Homo sapiens: one gene and its partner. The protein of the gene in region 1 purifies or fractionates together with the protein of each later gene. This does not show direct contact. Each region holds a gene or a part of one and is shown in the gene's direction. Other genes may lie near its edges. The genes, in order: N4BP1 and OTUD7B.

Region 1 (3,814 bases):
CTCCTCCTCTGACTTACAAAACGATTAATCCAACCCCACTTTATTTTTCCAATGTTCTGGTTTAGCACCTTTCAGCTTAAATCTCCACTGTAGTAGTCTCTGCCTTTGCTGTGCGTTCTGCCTCCTCTGGGTTCTGCTTTTGCTCAAGACTCATCGCAAGCATGGAGAATGACTCCTTTGCTATGCAGAAGAGCCCTGCTGGTCCTGCCAGACCTGCCCAATGCCTGTTTTCTTGGCTGTCCTTGCCACACAGTTTAGCCAAGCTGTTTGGGAAAGGTGTGTCTTACAGTTTCTTGCTAGTATGTGCTCCTGCTTGTTGATCTTTGTGATATGTATTACTCATAAGTCAACCCTCCCACTTGTAAGAAATTCTTTTTTTTCTCCCCTTGAGACTCATAGGTAAGAGTTGAATGCCACAATCAGGGCTTTTTTGTTCTGAATTTGTTTTGGAGTTTGTTTTACTTTCTTGAAGGAGGAGAAAACCATTATTTTGATTTTAAAAACTAAGAACAGGAAAGCAAATTTGATCCAACATCTATAATATTTTAAGTTAGGCTGTGGAAGAGCAGCAGATTTAGAGGAAGGAAGATTTAGAGCAAAGAAGAGTTTTTCAACTATAGTGTCTCTGCTCAAAATAAGATAAGATGAACTGTCTTGTGTCCCACCAAGTGGTTTGCTTGTGTTTTGCCTTTAAAATGTGAATTCACTGCCTTTTGCAAATGCTAGAGTAGAGAAGAATGTGGAGCTTAGTTAGGTGGGCCTCCAATGACTGCAGAGGGGCGAAATGGAAACTACTAGTAGACAGTGATAGTGCGCATGCAGGTTGAAAAACAGGCACTGACTCTGTACCAGTGACCACTTTTGTTAAAGGGAAGATTTGTCGTAGAAAGCAGTACTTCAGCTGGCTTTTGAAGAGCCAAATATTCCCAGGTACCTGACCTTCCAGACAGAGGTGGTTGTGGAGCAAAGGCCCAGAAAACATGGAGTGTCATGGTAAAAGGTGTCCAGGTGCTCCTGGGAAAGATGAAGGCTGAGGTACCAAAATGCCAGGCTAAGGTCATTGGACCTTATTTAATAGTCAGTGAGGATTTTGAGAAGCATGGAATCTTCCTGAAACAGAAGACCAACAGTGAAATGAACATTGTTGCAAGTTAGCCTTGGGCATGAGGGGGTAGGGGGTGGTAAGGTTTTTACAGGGACAGGGCAGCTGTGTGGTGGATGTAGGGATTTAGGGGTCGGTTTTAAGCCAGGTGGCAGGAGGGATGGTTAAGTTGTTTGACCTATTGACTGGTGGGGCCACCAGCTCATCAACATTTAAGGAAGACTTCTCTGGTGCCAGGGAGTGTATTGACGGTTGCCCCTTGACCTCAAGAATCACGTTGCCTCTTAGGGGAGACAGACATGGGGAAGATACAGTAAAGTGTGATACATACAACAACTGCAATGTGTGCAAGGTGTTTCTGTAACACAGGAATGGAAGGGTTGCTCTGCCAGCCGGTTTCCTAGGTAGCAGGGAGGTCCTGGCAGAGGGAAGAAGCTGTGTGCAATCACAGGGGCATGGAAGAGGGCAGTTGCATCACAGATTCCTCCAGTGGATCACAAAGTGCTTGGGGCCTGCTGAAGAACATGGATTTTACCTGCAAGTAGTCAGTGGAGAGTCGTGGAAGAGTTAGGGGGACATGAGAAATTTACATTTCCACAAATGCCTCAGTGTTTACACCTCTGGGCTGGGGCTGCTCAGTGTGGTCTGTTGCTGGTTTTCAATAGTAAGAGTACAGAAATTGAAAATAAGGGTTGAGTAACTTTTATGCAATTTGGCATTAATACAGGGGCTAGAGAGGCAATGTCTAAGAGTGAGAAGTCCTTATAAGAGGGCATTGTCCATAGGGGGCCCAGAGAGAGGGGAAAGAAGTCAGTGCTGGAAGACATCTTGGGAGCAAAGGATTGTGAGGATTGAATTTCAGAGACAAAAGGGAGGTACTGGCTAGCTGTTGCCTCATTCGCAAATAGAGATTAAAGTGAAGAAGCAGAGGTGGGACCCTCCCTGTGAAGCAGTGGTGGAAAGGGATGAGGTTGAGGGGATCTCAGCCGTGGGGGTGAGACGAGTTAGAATTCTTCTTTTAGGCCGGGCGCAGTGGCTCACGCCTGTGTAATCCCAACACTTTGGGATGCCGAGTGGTCTGATCACCTGAGGTCGGGAGTTCGAGACCAGCCCACCAACATGGAGAAACCCTGTCTCTACTAAAATTACAAAATTAGCCAGGTGGGGTGGCGCATGCATGTAATCCCAGCTACTCAGGAGGCTGAGGCAGGAGAATTGCTTGAACCAGGGAAGCGGAGGTTGCGGTGAACCAAGATCACGCTATTGCACTCCAGCCTGGGCAACGAGAGCAAAACTCTGTCTTGAGAAAAAAAAAAAAAGAACCCTTCTTTTAGATCAAAGAACCACAAACTCAGAATGCTTCCTGGGACCAGGCAGGGAACCTGTGTAGGGAAGTGGGGTGGTCGGGAAGAGGGACTGTGGTGAATGAAGCCGTGTGGCCCTTTTGGAGAGGGCAGCTTCCCATGCGTATCGCATTAGTCAGTTACATGGTAGGGCTCAGTGATGTCCAGTCTTATTATCTAAGAGAAGCAAGGAATCCAGATTTAATTATATAAAATATTGTATTTAAGTGGTCACTAATTTACATTTTAAAAATCATACACATCGAATTCATCGAATTATATGAATAAAATATTTTTAAACTACATATTTTAAAAAAACAGTTATATGTGCTAAACAAAACATGTCAGTGGACCTGAGCTTTGTTTCGTTTTGTTTTAATTTAGTTTTTGTTTTTGTTTTTTTTTTTACCTTTTTTTGTTTTTTTTTGTTTGTTTGTTTTGTTTTTTTGACCTGAGCTTTGGACTGCCTTTTTGAGACAGGGTCCCTAGGTTGGAGTGCAGTGGTATGATCTCAGCTTACTGAAACCTCTGCCTCCCAGGCTCAAGCGATCCTCTTGGCCTCCTGAGTAGCTGGGACTACAGGCATGTGCCACCATGCCCATGGTGTATTTTTGTATTTTTGGTAGAGATGGCATCTCACTATGCTGCCCTGGCTAATCTTGAATTCCCGAGCTCAAATGATCCTCCCACCTCAGCATCCCAAAGTGCTAGGATTACAGGCATGAGCCACCATGCCTAGCCCATATGTTTCTAATACTTGAAGAGGGCATTTGAAGGCCCCAGTGGCGTACAGTACAGTCTCAGTGCTAGTTCATCCCCAGAGGGAGCGCAAGAGCTCCAAAATAGTGGGATGTGTTAGGTGCAGTGGAACTGCTGCAGACTGAAAACTTAAGAACTTAAAAGGACTGGGATGAAGTAAGGGCCAAGGAAGGTTAGATAGTATGAACTTACAGTGTCACTTGAGCCAGAAACTCTCAAGTAGGTAATGTTTTCCTCCACTCAAGAGGTTTGTGAAGCCAGGACACAAGGATTGGAGGTAAGGGGGTCTGAAGTGCAATAGAGCAAGGCACAGTGGGGCTTAGGAAATATTTCTGAAGAGGTCAGCCTTGTTCAAGCTAGGACAGGGAAACAGATGAGAGCAGAAAGGGCGGAGTGAGCTGCAAGGATTAAGGGAGGGACAAGACCTTTGACCCTGTGCCCTCTGAAACCCAGGGGGTCATGTACACAGGGAAGTTAAGTATTGGAGAATTCTGGAGGTTGTAATCAGAGTAATTTCGGAGCTTAGAATCTTGGATGTAAAGGAATTCTGAGGATGACTCTGAGGGCCAAGGGGTGCCTCAGTAGTTGTGGGTGAGCTACAAGTGTTCCA
Region 2 (3,814 bases), on another chromosome or scaffold:
GCACTACAGCCTAGGCAACAGAGTGAGAGTCTGTCTCAAAAAAAAAAAAAGAAAGAAAGAAAATCAGGATAATCAAATCACATGTCTTAGCCCAAGTGAGAGGAGTTTTAAAGAGTTGATCAAGGCTGGGTGCGGTGGCTTATGCCTGTAATCCCAGCATGTTGGGAGAAACCACCATCAGAGTGAACAGGCAACCGAGGCAGGCAGATCACCTGAGGTCGGGAGTTTGAGACCAGCCTGGCCAACATGGAGAAACCACATCTCTACTAAAAATACAAAATTAGCCAGGCGTGGTGGTGCATGTCTATAATCCCATCTACTCGGGAGGCTGAGGCAGGAGAATAACTTGAATCCAGGAGGCGGAGGTTGCAGTGAGCTGAGATGGTACCATTACACTCCAGTATGGGCAACAAGAGTGAAACTCCATCCAAAAAATAAATAAATAAATACGTGATAAAAATAGTTTGCTCTGAGTTTTTGCCTTTCTGGAATTTAATAGCAAGAAAAATATGTTCCCTACCCTCTCAGCCCCCACTCTACCTCCCTGTGGCTTGTTAAGCCTTCCTTCTGCCTCCTGCATCAACTTCCTGATGGAGAGTGTATGAATGCAAAAGCTCCTCCCTTAGCACTTACCTAGTGCTTCACTCTCTGGGCTCCTGCCACTGGGTCCCAGCTAAGAGAGTTTGATTTTAAAATCCAGAGTTTATGGCTTTTTAAAAATAACCTCTCACCTATTTATCAAAAGCTCCTTCTAAATAATATTTACAACAACAACAATGATAATGGCTACTATCTAGTATTTCCCATTTTCCAGACACTGTGCTGGGCTCTTTCCAAACACTGTTTTAATCTTTACAACAACCCTACAGGATAGATATTATCTATACCCATTCTCAGCTGCAGCTGAGTTTCAGGGAGGTTGAAGTGACTTGCTCAAGGTCATAAAGCTTATTAATTGGTGGAGAAATAGTTCAAACCCAACCCTATTTGAGTCCTAAGCCATGTAGCCCTCTCCCACCCTTTCTCCCAACTATATCAAATTGCTTTGCTTTTAAAAGGTGACAGTAATTTGTTTTTTCTCTTTTTCATAGTGTAATTCTGTCCCTAGAGGTCAAATTGCATCTGCTGCATAGCTACATGAATGTGAAGTGGATCCCACTGTCCTCTGATGCACAGGTGAAGACTTCTCCCACATCTACCCTGGTGTGTCTTCATTTCATTTTCAGTGACAGAACAAGGAGATCTGGGATGGTTTCCTTCTGAATCTATTCTGAGTGGTGGCTTACAATTCAAGGTTAGAAGTAACTAGAAGATGTCAGATAAGTTCCAAAGACAATTTTTCCTGTTTTTATTGTATTTTTTATTTTTATTTTTGAGATGGAGTCTTGTTCTGTCACCCAGGCTGGAGTGCAATGGCACAATCTTGGCTCATTGCAACCTCCGCCTCCTGGGTTCAAGCGATTCTCCTGCCTCAGCCTCCTGAGTAGCTGGTATTACAGGCATGCGCCACCACGCCCAGCTAATTTTTGTATTTTTAGTAGAGGACAGGTTTCACCATGTTGGCCAGGCTGGTCTCGAATGCCTGACCTCAGATGATCTGCCCGCCTCAGCCTCCCACAGTGCTGGGATTACAAGTGTGAGCCACCGCGCCTGGCCTTTCCTGTCCTTTTTTTTTTTTTTTTTTTCAGAGGAAGTCTTGCTCTGTCAGCCAGGCTGAAATGCAGTGGCACAATCTTGGCTCACAGCAACCTCCACTTCCCAGGTTCAAGTGATTCTCCTGCATCAGCCTCACGAGTAGCTGGGATTACAGACGTGCGCCACCACACCCGGCTGATTTTTGTATTTTTAGTAGAGACGGAGTTTCACCACGTTGGCCAGGCTAGTCTCGAACTCCTGACCTCAGGTGATCCACCCACCTTGGCCTCCCAAAGTTCTGGGATTACAGGCATGAGCCACCACACCCAGCCCTTTCCTGCTTTTTAAAAACCGTTAGTCTCCTGTTTTCCACATCTCCTCTCCAGCCAGTCTCTGTTATCTGATACTAAAACATATATATATTTTTTGAGACGGAATCTTGCTCTTGATGCCCAGGCTGGAGTGCAATGACACGATCTCAGCTCACTGCAACCTCCACCTCTTGGGTTCAAGCGATTCTCCTGCCTCAGCCTCCCGAGTAGCTGAGATTGCAGGTGCCCGCCACCATGTCCAGCTAATTTTTCTATTTTTAGTAGAGATGGGGTTTCGCCATGTTGGCCAGGCTGGTCTTGTGATCCGCCTGCCTTGGCCCCCGAAAGTGCTGGGATTACAGGCGTGAGCCACCGCGCCTGACCTAAAACATATTATTATTATTATTATTATTTTTCTTTGAGATGGAGTTTCACTCTTTTTGCCCAGGCTGGAGTGCAATGGTGCGATCTCAGCTTATTGCAACCTCCGCCTCCTGGGTTCAAGCGATTCTCCTGCCTCAGCCTCCTGAGTAGCTGGGATTACAGACATGCACCACCACGTCCGGCTAATTTTGTATTTTTAGTAGAGATGGGGTTTCTCCATGTTGGTCAGGCTGGTCTGGAACTCCCGACCTCAGGTGATCCACCCACCTCGGCCTCCCAAAGTGCTGGGATTACAGGCATGAGCCACCGTGCCTGGCTTAACATATTCTTTAAGAAAGGTTTTCTGGACTGTTTGTTGAACTTGAGATGATCATTATTTCGTCCAAAGTCTTCTGTAGATAGACCTCTGTTTTGGGCACTAGGAGACGGAGTAGCTTAAAGAGCTCCTAATTCAGTGGGCTCTGAGTTAGAACAGGAGCACAGGAGTAGGGTCAAATTGATAACTCCAATGCAGAATGTATAAAAGTTGAGGGGATGCAAAGTGGCTAGACTTGGTTAGTTTTGATTAGTCAAGACTTTCTTGAGATTAGTTTCGAGCAGAATTTGGCATAGAGAAATGTATAATAAAGAACATTCTAATGTCTGGGCCTCTCACCCGGAAGCCACGTATCATATGGTTGCTCATTGTTCTAAATGAACAGTAAGGCTTTATTCTACTATCTCCTTATTACAGAAGGGAGTCAGATTGCAGTGGGGGAGAAAGCTGACTGACTGGAACCCAGGAAGGACAGTGCCATCCTGGGTGACCCTTCCCTCATCATGACAGAAGCCCTTCTCTGGAGCAAGGCAGTCACTAGGCAATCACTCAGAGGACGGAGTTCATAGGTGTCCATCCTTTTCTACCTGGCTAATTTCTATAGCCATGGCTGCAGGGAGCTCCCTGAGCCAGATGGATGGGCTAGAGGTCCCTGGGGGATTCCCCCACCCCAGGCTGCTGGGATAACTGTCAACAGTGTTCTTGTCTCTTCCAGGCTCCTCTGGCCCAGCCTGAGTCCCCCACCGCCTCAGCTGGAGATGAGCCCCGGTCCACTCCTGAGTCTGGAGACTCAGACAAGGAGTCAGTTGGCAGCAGTTCCACCAGCAACGAGGGCGGCCGGCGGAAGGAGAAGTCAAAGCGAGATCGGGAGAAGGACAAGAAGAGAGCAGATTCTGTGGCTAACAAACTGGGCAGCTTTGGCAAAACCTTGGGCAGCAAGCTCAAGAAGAACATGGGGGGCCTGATGCACAGCAAGGGTTCAAAGCCTGGAGGGGTGGGGACAGGGTTGGGAGGAAGCAGCGGCACTGAGACACTGGAGAAGAAGAAGAAAAACTCACTGAAGAGCTGGAAGGGTGGCAAGGAGGAGGCAGCTGGGGATGGGCCTGTGTCTGAGAAGCCCCCAGCTGAGTCTGTTGGTAACGGAGGGAGCAAGTATAGCCAGGAGGTG

The links.
Region 2: the proteins of N4BP1 (region 1) and OTUD7B purify together in Homo sapiens (affinity purification with mass spectrometry, with the first as the bait; one large-scale study listed by BioGRID). This does not show direct contact.

The regions. Positions count from the first base shown.
Region 1 is NC_000016.10:48,603,641-48,607,454, reverse strand, and holds part of N4BP1 (NEDD4-binding protein 1), read left to right. Parts: intron 1-3,814. UniProt on the Homo sapiens protein: Potent suppressor of cytokine production that acts as a regulator of innate immune signaling and inflammation.
Region 2 is NC_000001.11:149,944,613-149,948,426, reverse strand, and holds part of OTUD7B (OTU domain-containing protein 7B), read left to right. Parts: intron 1-1,091; coding exon 1,092-1,176; coding exon of another isoform or gene 1,177-1,203; intron 1,204-3,361; coding exon 3,362-3,814. UniProt on the Homo sapiens protein: Negative regulator of the non-canonical NF-kappa-B pathway that acts by mediating deubiquitination of TRAF3, an inhibitor of the NF-kappa-B pathway, thereby acting as a negative regulator of B-cell responses.